Linked DNA regions of Homo sapiens. The protein of the gene in region 3 binds, or shares a complex with, the protein of the main gene of each other region. Each region holds a gene or a part of one and is shown on either strand. Other genes may lie near its edges. The genes, in order: RGS8, CASR and GNAI3.

Region 1 (3,824 bases), about 73 Mb from region 3:
TAAAAATAAAGCTGAAGAAACACCTCAGCCAAATGTAATACATGGACTTTGTGTTGAATCCTGATTCAAATGTAAAATTTTAAAAATAATACAGTGCAATTGAGAAAATCTAAACACTGATTAGATATTTAATAGTATTAAGACATTATCGTTATTTTTTAGTGCAATTTTGATATTGAGGCTTTTTTAAGAGACCTTATCTTTTAGAGGTATACTCTGAAATATTTATAGTTGAAATGATATGCTATCATGAACAGCTTCAACATCATCTTGGGTGGGAAGCTGGGTGGTAGGTACGTAGGGACTCATTGTTCTGTTCTCTTGACTTGTGTATATTTGAAATTGTGCCTACAATGTGTGGCTTCAGTAAAATAAGCCAACAAAGTACAAGAAAACTGAAATACAGAAGGAGGAGACTATTTGAATGGAACTTGATTTTCTGTACATTTTCCATTGTAAGTTTTTCTCCCCTTGAATAAATCCATTTTAAGAAAAGTCTATTATTTTATGCCTAGGGAGCAGGTGCTAAAATTCACAGAGGTTTAGAGTGGGTATAACTCCTAGACATCACCTACAGAAACTAAACTTTGAAGACTTTGTCCAATGTCACATTTCTTAGAGGCATAGCCAGGACTCCAACTCAGAGTTCCTGGATGGAATCCAGCCACATCCTTTGTTCCCACTGCTGAGCTGCCCATCTATACAGGCAGAATTCAGGGCCATATGTTAACACTGGACAAGGAGAGAAATGATGGCCTGTTTGCTCACCTCCACAGCCCTTCTCTGTTCCTACTATGATCACAGCCTTAAACACTGAACTCAGGTTTTACAAATGACCTTTCCAGTGGCCAACTAGTTTCTGTGAGGGCAGCTGAAGGGCAGGAAGGTAGAGTGGAGAGAGAGAGCTTATGCAACATACACAACTCTTCACACCCTCACAACCTGATCTCCTGTCCCATCAAGATCATCAAGGCCTCAGGTATGAAATACCTGGACCTCTTTTCACTTACTAACAACTCCTACTAATCTATCCATATTACACACACCCTGACCTCCTTCCAGCTGCCCTCAGATGTGTCTATTTAAGGTGAATTCTTCCTCCTGTGGCCTTCCACCTATTCTTTCCCATGGACCCTCCTTTATGAACTCTATCTTTATTTTCTCTTTCTCACATGTTATTCTGCACTTAACAAAAACAATGTTCATCTCTTTTATTTAAAAAAATTCCCCTTGGGAAACACCCTTGGGTGTTTCTCCTTTTATCAGCAAAACTGCTTGAAAGAGTCTCCTCTGCTTCCTCACTTCCTATCCCCTCCTAACCCCTTTGCCATTTGGCTTCCATTCCCACCATTCCCCCGAAACACAGCCTCCATACTGTGAGGTTCAAGTGGAAATGTTCCAGTACTTGTCTTTATGAACCTCTTTGCTGCCTTTGCCATGGTGACCATTCATTTCTTGGATCTCTCTCTTTTGACTTCCCAACATTACACTCCCCTGGCTGCCCTTCCCCTTGGTCTCCTTTGCTGGCTCCTCCTCCTCTGTCCACCCCATAAACACTGGTATTTTCCTTCCTCTCTAATCTTAGCTTCCTGCCTCTCTCACCTTGCATGCTACTTGGGCAATCTCATCCTTGCCCATAGTCCTAACTACATTGGGTATATTGACCATTTCTAAATATTTTTGTCCAACTCTAGCCCCTCTCCCATCATGTAGACACCAATAGCTCCCAATCATGTAGACTCCGATAGTCCTTGGGTTGCTGAACATACCCCTCAGATATCCTACAGGCCTAACAACTGCAAATATATCTAAATAATGGACACATCATATTCCCATCTTTTCTTGGCCCATTTTATCCGCCGCCCTCACCACGCCCACCTCCCACTCCACCCGCACCCCCTACACACACATATAAACCTTGGCTTCCTCTGGAATTGCTGATCTCAGTTTCTGGCACCACCATCTACTGAGTAACTCAAGCCAGAAATAGGAAAGTAATTACAGGCAACTCCCTTTCTCTCATCTCCTGTCGACAACCAATTACCAAATCATACTGATTAAATCTTTCATAGTTTTCAAATCTGTCTCCTCCCCTCCATCCTCGCTACCACTGCTCTGGCTCATGTCCTTACGGTCCTGGTTCACGTCCTCACAGTCTCTGGTCCCCATGAGACAGCCTATTTTCTTAAATTCAGCTCCAATCTGCAGCCATAATCACCTGGTTAGTCACAAACATGACTGCATTTCCTTCTCCTCAAAACCTTTAAGCCCTCCTACTCTAGGGATAAAGTTCCAGCTTAAGAAGGATCCTGATACACAAACACCCCAAGGTCTGGCTACCTTGAGAGTCACCTACCACTTCCCTGGCTTGTCCTTCAGGCCCCAATAACTCTACACTTTCCATAATCATGAGCACATATCACAGGGTTCCATGGCTTTGGGCCTCCTTTATTTCATTTCCTCTGCCCAGAATGTCCTTGATCTGAGTGAGTCCTGCTCATCCTCAAGCTGCACTTCAGGACGACTTCTCCAAAAGCCTCACCTGAACACCCAAGTTCAGGAAATGCCCTCTGTGCTCCTATGGCTTCCAGGCACACTTCTCTATGTCAGCACCTGGCATAGCTAGGTACCTGCAACTCTCTTCTCCTAACCAGATCCTAAGTTCATCAAGGGCAGAAAGCATGGGTTCATTCATTCATTCATTCATCTGACTAACATTTAAGTGTCTCCTATGTGCCAAGCAAGGTCCCAGGCATGGGTACATTACATTCCCTATGTACATTGCCTAGGTAAAAAACGTATTTTTCATCTCTACACCTCCAAAATGTAGCACGGTCCCCGGCAACAGGAAAAGGCTCAGTTAATGTATGTTGAGCTGACACGAGCCCCCCAGCAGGTAGGTGAGGAAACTGTGTTTGGTGTAGGATGCTGGCCAACAGAGACAGTGTGGAGTCACAGAGTGGCACAGGCTCCAGGGTCAGCAACAAGGGTTCAAGCTCCAACTCTGCCCCTTTATGGCAGGCTCTCCTTGGCTTAGGACCTTGCCTTCTCATCTCTGAAATCAGAATTACTAAGGCAATGCCCACTTCCTGTGTTACTGCAAGAATTCAGTGAAATATATAAGTAAACATGGGCTGTAAATCACTTAGGCTTATGAAAACATTGAGTCACAGGGAGAACATCAGAGTCCGAGAAGGCAGAAGCCCCACACCCAGTGGGGAGAGGTGTGGAGGCTGCATGGATGGGACAGGAGGGCCAAAGGTGGAGAAGCAGAGGGATGTAGTTTTCAAAGCCATGGAGCTGAGAGGCAAGCATGAAACCCTGTCACAACTGAAATGTGGCTTTCCCTCCTATCGCTCAGTGCCAGGGTGCTGGTTATCAATCTCTTCCCCTTCTCAGATAGTAACAAAAGCTTTACCATTTGCCATCAGAGTCTACAGCTGTGGGCAGAGAGCAGCTTCAGCACTCTCCCCCTTCTCTGAATATAAAATAAGCTCTTTCTAATCCTCCATTTTTAATGACTTCAGGCAATGGCTTTCATGTCCTCACTCCTAGCTCCATTCTAGCCAGACACCTAGAATCACGCAGCAAGGAGAATCCACAGCCATCAGACCCAGGAGTGGGGTTCGGCCACAGCAACAGCAGCAGGGAATAGTGGAGTGGAGTCTGGGACTCTGGGGACAGTTCTCCCACTGGTATTTGCTCCGAAATTCACACAGAACTGGGAACTGAGAGCACTCAGTGAGACGCCTTGCTTGCGGGCATGTGCTGGTGCACGTTAATGTCTGAGCTGGAGGCGGGAGGAGGGACGAGGGCTGTGTGGG
Region 2 (3,600 bases), on a different chromosome or scaffold from region 3:
GGAAAAATCCTAGGCATGCCAGTTAGGGAATCCTGGAGTGGAGATGGGAAAAGCAACAGCAAGGTGTGACTGATGAAGTTCTGTTTTAAGGAATAGGAACTACTGTGGTGTTAAGTTCTGGAAATCCAGAGCATTTCAGAAAACAGCCTGCATTATTTCTCTCAGTAACAGACTACCTAAACTGCACTTGGAAGATCCAGTTTAAGGGGAAAGATAAGTGTGTTTAGAACTTGACATGGACTCTTCCCCAATGTGCCTTTTCTTCAAATCTCTGGGATAATTGAAGCAAGTAAACGAAATGTCTTCTCGTTAGTAGGCTCCCTACCCTGAGGACCACCTTGTGAAAAATATTTGAGGACAAGAGAGGCGTTGCAAGGAGGAACACTGGAGATTAAGGGATGTGGGCAGTGGTGGTGACATCATTTTCTGGATAAAGAATCAAAAGACGGCGACAGAACACGTAGAGTGGGAAAGGCTATGGGTGTAGAAAGGAGACAGCAATAGACACACATGCTAGTGCACGCATTGCCTGTAGAAGATAAATGTTTGTATTATTTGACTTAAAAAAAGAAACATATGCATGTTATCTATTGAAAGCTATAATGTTAAAATAATGATAAGACTCCATCAGTCTGGTATGCCTTTTTTTTTTCTCCCCAGGAAATACACATGGAGGCTGGTGCTCAGGCCCCGGGAACTGACAATCTAATTTGATGCCACTGAAGCAAAGTTCCCAAGACAGCTGGTAGCTTGGACCAGGAATCCTGTGGGGGCACTGACGGCCCCTGGGGCCAGAGCTGACTCTGTGGCCCTCCCCTCCATATTCATACACTCTGTAAAAGCTACCTGTCCCCTTGTTAACACGTGGCAAGCGAGTCCTTTCTGACTATATCACAGGCAGAAACAAGGCAGAGGCACAAGAAACTACCAACAGCAGGCGTTTTGGTGCGCGCTCCCGTTCATTCGCGTGGGCGACCCGCTGCCCCTTCTAGGGGCACTGAACAATCCAGTTCTGAGCCGGGGAAAGCCTTGATCCTGTAATCTGGTCCCTACTTTCCCCCACGTTCACGCCCAATGCTCCCAGGCTGGAGCTGCTCCGGCGTGTGCCCCTCGTTCGGCCCGGAGCCCTTGGCCCCCAGACCCCGCCACGGCCCCTCCCCCACCAGGGGCGCTTTCCTCCCGCCCTCCTTGGGTTCCCCGGTCCTACCTGCGCCGCGGCCAGGGCTCCCTCGCACAGAGGCAGCTCCGGCCCCTCGGCCGTGGGTCTCCACGAGGATGAGCTCTGGTCTGATCTCAGGACTGCGCGCAGCCCCGCTCCCTATGCCAAGGTCACGGTCTTGGAGAGGCGCGTCTGGCTCGCTGCGCTCCCGGCGCCCGCCTTCGGGTCCGGCCACAGCAGCCCCCGCAGACCCTCTGGGCGGCCGCTGCGGCCCCGGCCCCGGCCCCGGAGCTCCGCCCCTCTCCTGCTCCCCGCCCGCTTGCCCCCTCGGGGTCCCCAACTGCCGAGCCCAGCTCCCCTCGTAGCCCACTCGCGGGCTGCCTTCTAACCCCTACCCCAGTTAGTCCCGGTTCCTTCACCGTCTCCTTAGCCCGCAGAGAGCTTAGCTGACTCTTCAGGGTCGCTGAGGGCGCGTCTTCGGTTCCCCGAGGGCCACAGGCCGGCTCGGGTCCCCAGCAGACGGCGAGCCCCGCGCTTAGGTCCTCTCCTGCCCTCTCCCGTGCCGAGCCAGGGGTTCCCGGCTCTCAAATCCTGTTCCCGCTGTCCTCTTCCCTGACCCCTACTCCTTGGCGATGGAAAGAAGCTTAGGGCGCTTACGACGCCACCAACGTTCTCTGTGCCGAGGGTGGCACAATTTTTTTTTTTCTGATATAAGGCCAGAGATTCACAGTAAAATAAATACAAATCGCGTGCCCAAACTCTTACTCATTCTGCAAGACTCAGGTCAAGCGTTGCCTGTGCCGCAAGACCTCGGTGCTGGCAAACAGCTCCCTCCTTCCACTCTCCTGCGCGAAAGGGCGTGCGGTCCTTCCTGGCTGCAGCCAGGTGCCTGTTGCACTTGGTCTACTCTACCCGACTCCACAGCGCGCTGCTTGGAGGCCCGGACCTGGCCTTGCTTATCCTTGTCCCTAGCCCCTGGCACGGTGCCTGCCACCCATCACAGCACTAGAATATTTTATGAATAAGTGGAAAATTAATTTCTTTTGTAGAAAACCAGTTTTTTTGTATGTGTTTGTTTGTTTTTGGCTTTTTACTCTCAAATAAAGCATACTCCTTTGGGTGGGCAATTTGCTAGGCTCTATAAAGAAACACCAAAAATATTATCCCCTTTAATGCAGTATTCCACCCTTGCGGAAATTTCCAGAACAAAATAATATTCGTGCGGAGATTTTTTTTTTAGCAGGATCATTTGTTACAGAAAATAATTTTAAAAACCACAAAAAGCAAACAGAGCCAAACTGTCAACAGTAGGAAATTTGTTGAATAAATTAGGGTGACTTAATGGGACATTATACAACCATTAAAATGATAAACATCAAGACAGAAGTGCTTCAAATTCTTTTTAGAATAAGGAGGGAGTATGTATTTATTTATAAAGCAAAAAAAAAATAGGAAAACATGAAGTAACATGATAAAATGTTTGCAAAATACTGTTAAGCAAAAAGCAGAAAATTGGGTCGTTTACCATGTTTAAGAACTTCAAATAAAAATGCAGATTTCTTCTCTGCAAAATGGCGATAACATCTACCTCAGGGGGTCCTTGGAGTGTTAAATGAAATAGTCAAGGAAAGTGCCCTGTATAGAATGGATACTCAACAAAGTTTCCATTTCTTTTCTTCAATGGAACACAGACTCAAATCCAGCATGTCAAACACATCCTCATTATGGCCAAGTTCTGCCCATTTGGCTTCCTTTCCCTCAAATACAGGGTAGGAGAAGGAGCTGAGCAAATGCTAAAGCACCAGTGAAGGGGGCAAAATCTGGTTAATAGGAATAAATGTGAAGTCCTCCCTCAGGCCGAAACACCCAGCAATGTAAGTAATGGAGGATGTGGCTCAGTAGTGGTGCCTATCAAAATACCTTAGATTTTATTTTAGTTGGCTACAAGCACAGCTTTGTGAACACCCAAAGGCTGAACGAGTTCAGTTCAAAACCCGAATGAGGCTGCAATCTTAGGCTGAACTGATGCTCTTCACTGGTCGGATTACACCTGGGCATAATGTCCAAATTTGGGCACTATCTTTAAGAAAGTATTACTCTGAAGATCTATTATTGCTTCCATTTTAAAGACGAAGAAACTGATGCATACAGTTTCAGGTATTTAGGGTTGGGTGGCTAGGAGTTGGCAGAGCCAAGAGCTGAACCTGATCAGCTTGACTTACAGTCCTGGTGCTTGATCACTTTACCAGTGTGTCCCAGTGTGTACATCTTCCAGTAGAGATTGGAAGCATGGTATTGGGTGGTACACAGACAATACAATTAGATAACAGTGGATCACAAGGTGAAAAAAGATATGCCCTTTTTACTTCTTTTGTTCCTATGGATTATGTCAAGGAAGGAGTATCATTTTTGTAGTATTTGTCTTTGCACCCCTCTGTAAC
Region 3 (3,824 bases):
CCAGTACCATGATGTTTTGGTGATTATGGCCTTACAGTATAGTTCGAAGTCAGGTAATCTAATGCCTCTAGGTTTGTTCTTTTTGCTTAGTCTTGCTTTGGCTATACGGGCTCTTTTTTGGGTCCACATGAATTTTAGGATTGTTTTTTCTAGTTCTGTGAAGAATGATGGTGGTACTTTAATGGGAATTGCATTGAATTTGTAGATATGCTTTTGGCAGTATGGTCATTTTCACAATATTGATTCTACCCATCCATGAGCATGGGACGTGTTTCCATTTGTTTGTATCATCTATGATTTCTGTCAGCCGTGTTTTGTAGTTTTCCTTGTAGAGGTGTTTCACCTTCTTGGTCAAGTATATTCCTAAGTATTGTTTGTTTGTTTGTTTTTTGTTTGCAGCTACTGTAAAAGGTTGAGTTCTTGATTTGATTCTCAGCTTGGTTGCTGTTGGTGTATAGGGCTACTGACTTAAATCTAAGACCCAAAACCATAAAAATTCTAGAAGATAACATTGGAAAAACCCTTCTAGCCATTGGCTTAGGCAAAGACTTCACAACCAAGAACCCAAAAGCAAATGCAAAGACAAAAATAAAAATAAATAAATGGGACTCAACTAAACTAAAAAGCTTCTGAGCAACAAAAGAAATCAGCAGAGTACAGACAACCCAGAGTGGGAGAAAATCTTCACAATCTATACATCTGACAAAGGACTAATATCCAGAATCTACAAGGAAATCAAATCAGCACGAAAAAAACAATCCCATCAAAAAGTGGGCTAAGGACTTGAATAGACAATTCTCACAAGATATACAAATGGCCAGCAAACTTACGAAAACATGCTCAACATCACTAATTATCAGGAACTACAAATCAAAACTACAATGTGATACCACCTTACTCCTGCAATAATGGCCATAATAAAAAAAAAATAGATGTTGGTGTGGATGTGATGAAAAGGGAACACCTTCACGCTGTTGGTGGGAATGTAAACTAGTACAACCACTATGGGAAACAGTGTGTAGGTTCCTTAAAGAACTAAAAGTATATCTACCATTTGATGCACCAATCTCACTCCTGAGTATCTACCCTGAGGAAAGAAGCCATTATACAAAAAAGATACTTGCATACGCATGTTTATAGCAGCACAATTCACAATGGCAAAAATATGGAACCAGCCCAAATGCCCATCAATCAACGAGTGGATAAAGAAAATGTGATATACACACACACACACACACACACCCCTCTACACCCATGGAACACTACTCAGCCATAAAAAGGAATGAAATAATGGCATCTGCAGCAACCTGGATGGAACTGGAGACGATTACTCTAAGTGAAGTAACTCAGGAATGGAAAACCAAACATCGTACGTTCTCACTTGTAAGTGGATGCTAAGCTATGAGGATGCAAAGGCCTAAGAATGATACAACGGACTTTGGGGACTCGGGGGAAAGGGTGGGAAGGTGGTGAGGGATAAAGGACTATACATTGGGTACAGTGTAGACTGCTCAGGTGATGGGTGCACCAAAATCTCAGAAATTGCCACTAAACTTATTCACGTAACCAAACATAACCTGTTCCCCAAAAACCTATTGAAATGTTAAAAAAGTGACTAATGCATTTAAATAAAAGACACAAAGAATGATACATGCTTATAAAACACAAAGCTTTTTTTCCCCGAAACACAGATGCATCCTCACATGAAATGTAACTGGCCATGAACCTTATCCCAAGCAAATGGCAAACATAATAAAGGGTATAATCCCATAGGAGGATATAATGTAATGGCATGTTTACCAAAGGGCAGTCTTATTCTCAATAATAAGCATATTCAGCCAATAATATGCAGCAATTTAAATATAATTAACTGTATAATATAGAGTTTAAGTAAATTAGATGATTCCAGTTCTCTGCATGCAACTGGCTTTTTGCCATACTACCACCAGCAAATCCCAAAGAACAAAGTTTTTTTTTATGTTTTCTCAGAACCTGCTAAAGGAAACTATCAAGAAACAGAAATACAGAGAGCAGATAATTCAATAATTTACAAAACTAAGTATCTTCATTAGTACAGTGATGAGTAAAAAAAAAGGACTAACATTTAATTCCTTTCACCACAAAAGGATATTAAAATTCTTTGAAGATCTTTGAAAATAGTATATTAATATGAAAAATAATAAAACAGCTGTCTGAAAAACCTCTGAAAAAAGTAGCTAAAATGGTAATTCTCACGATCATCATCATCAATAGAAGTGACCACTTACTATTTTTTATTTGCTAGGCACTAATGTGAAGCATTTTACATGCATTATCTCATTTCATATTATGAAACATCATCTCTGCTTTACATATGTAAAAATTATTATTCTTATGGTTAAGTTACTTGCTCTGGGTCTCAGAGCTAATAAGTGGAGGTAGAACTTAAATTCAGTTTTGTGTGAATCCAAAAGCAGTGCTCTTATCCATTATACCAGTGCTTCCCAACCTTTGTCACATGATGGCACACATTAAAAATATTTGTAAGGCTCATTGGGGTGAGCTGAAAGAGCTTGGTGAAAAAAAATTTTCTTGCTTGCCCTGGGGTCAAAAAAAAACAAAAACAAAACCCGCACACACAAAATTTCTTATTATGAAATTATGGCATGAAAAAAATACAAAGTATTACAAATGATATTAAATATTAAATTGGTATAAATTTAGTATTTATACCAAATAAAATTTTTTCAAATTACCAAATTCATGGTAGGGTAGGCACAGTGGCTCACACTGGTAATCCCAGCACTTTGGGAGGCTGAGATGGGAGAATCACATGAGGCCAAGCATTTGAGACCAGCCTGGGCAACATAATGAGACCCCCATCTCTAATTGTTTAAATAGTAAATAACCAAATTACCAAATTCATGAATTATACAAGAGGAAATCATACCAAAGATGTTCAAATGTAATTTCAACTGTTGTAAAAGTTTGAACTTATAAAAATGATTTAAAATTTCAATGCTATAAAAAATTTGTAAACAGCACACCTATATGCCATCCTAAGCACTGGAACATTGGTTGGGAAGCTTTGCATGGTATTTTTTCAATAGAATGTCATAATTAAACACTAATTTGATATACCAAGATCTTCCCAAGAACACTTTATTTTTTTTTTTTTTGAGACAAAGAGTCTCACTTTGTCACCCAGGCTAGAGTGCAGTGGCGTCATCTCTGCTCACTGCAACCTCCACCTCCCGGGTTCAAGCGATTCTCCTGCCTCAGCCTCCCAAGTAGCTGGGACTACAGGTGCACACCACCACGCCCGGCTAATTTTTGTACTTTTAGTAGAGATGGGGTTTCGCCATGTTGGCCAGGCTGGTCTCGAACTCCTGACCTCAGGTGATCCACCAGCCTCGGCCTCCCAAAGTGATGGGATTACAGCCAGGAGCCACCACGCCCAGCCCTTTCCAAGAACATCTAAATGAAATTCAAACCAAAGGTTATCAAAGGAAGAATTACAATACTGAAGTGTCTGTAAATAATCTGGCCCACACTAGCTGCTTAATTTGGTATAATTTCCATAATACCTACAATCTGTAACATTCATTTTGACTTAATAAGAATAGCTAATCTTCATGGAGCTAGTACTATGTGCCAAGCTGTGTTCTGCTTTACATTATTACCATATTTAATCCTCACAGCAATCCTAGGAGTAGCTCTATTTTCTCCATTTTAAAGATAAGAAAACTGAGGCCAAGAGAAATTAACTTTCCCAAGGCTATAACTAGTAAATGGGAATTAGGATTTAAAGCAGTCTGACTTCAGGACCCATGCTATTAATCACC

What was found.
Region 1: the proteins of GNAI3 (region 3) and RGS8 are in contact, whole or in part, in a crystal structure (PDB 2ODE), measured with the Homo sapiens proteins. Residues at the interface, in NP_006487.1 of Homo sapiens: Glu65, Gln68, Ser75, Val179, Lys180, Thr181, Thr182, Gly183, Ile184, Val185, Gln204, Ser206, Glu207, Lys209, Lys210, His213, Ala235, Glu236, Asp237, Glu238; in NP_001095920.1 of Homo sapiens: Thr76, Glu77, Phe78, Ser79, Glu81, Asn82, Ala117, Pro118, Glu120, Val121, Asn122, Ile123, Asp124, Phe125, Gln126, Arg128, Leu153, Lys156, Asp157, Ser158, Arg161, Arg164.
Region 2: the proteins of GNAI3 (region 3) and CASR are in contact, whole or in part, in a cryo-EM structure (PDB 8SZH), measured with the Homo sapiens proteins. Residues at the interface, in NP_006487.1 of Homo sapiens: Ala31, Lys32, Gln304, Glu308, Lys314, Asp315, Thr316, Lys317, Glu318, Ile319, Tyr320, Thr321, Phe334, Asp337, Ala338, Thr340, Asp341, Ile343, Ile344, Lys345, Asn347, Leu348, Glu350, Cys351, Gly352, Leu353, Tyr354; in NP_000379.3 of Homo sapiens: Lys644, Ala645, Asn647, Arg701, Val702, Val705, Phe706, Ala708, Lys709, Pro711, Thr712, Arg716, Trp719, Phe801, Ile869, Val872, Arg873, Thr876, Ala877, Ala880, Phe881, Lys882, Val883, Ala884, Ala885, Arg886.

Annotation. Positions count from the first base shown.
Region 1 is NC_000001.11:182,677,937-182,681,760, forward strand, and holds part of RGS8 (regulator of G-protein signaling 8), read right to left. Parts: intron 1-3,824. UniProt on the Homo sapiens protein: Regulates G protein-coupled receptor signaling cascades, including signaling via muscarinic acetylcholine receptor CHRM2 and dopamine receptor DRD2.
Region 2 is NC_000003.12:122,182,137-122,185,736, reverse strand, and holds the start of CASR (extracellular calcium-sensing receptor isoform 2 precursor), read right to left. Parts: upstream 2,070-3,600; 5' UTR 1,925-2,069; intron 1,411-1,924; exon of another isoform or gene 1,208-1,410; intron 1-1,207. UniProt on the Homo sapiens protein: G-protein-coupled receptor that senses changes in the extracellular concentration of calcium ions and plays a key role in maintaining calcium homeostasis.
Region 3 is NC_000001.11:109,551,498-109,555,321, reverse strand, and holds part of GNAI3 (guanine nucleotide-binding protein G(i) subunit alpha-3), read right to left. Parts: intron 1-3,824. UniProt on the Homo sapiens protein: Heterotrimeric guanine nucleotide-binding proteins (G proteins) function as transducers downstream of G protein-coupled receptors (GPCRs) in numerous signaling cascades.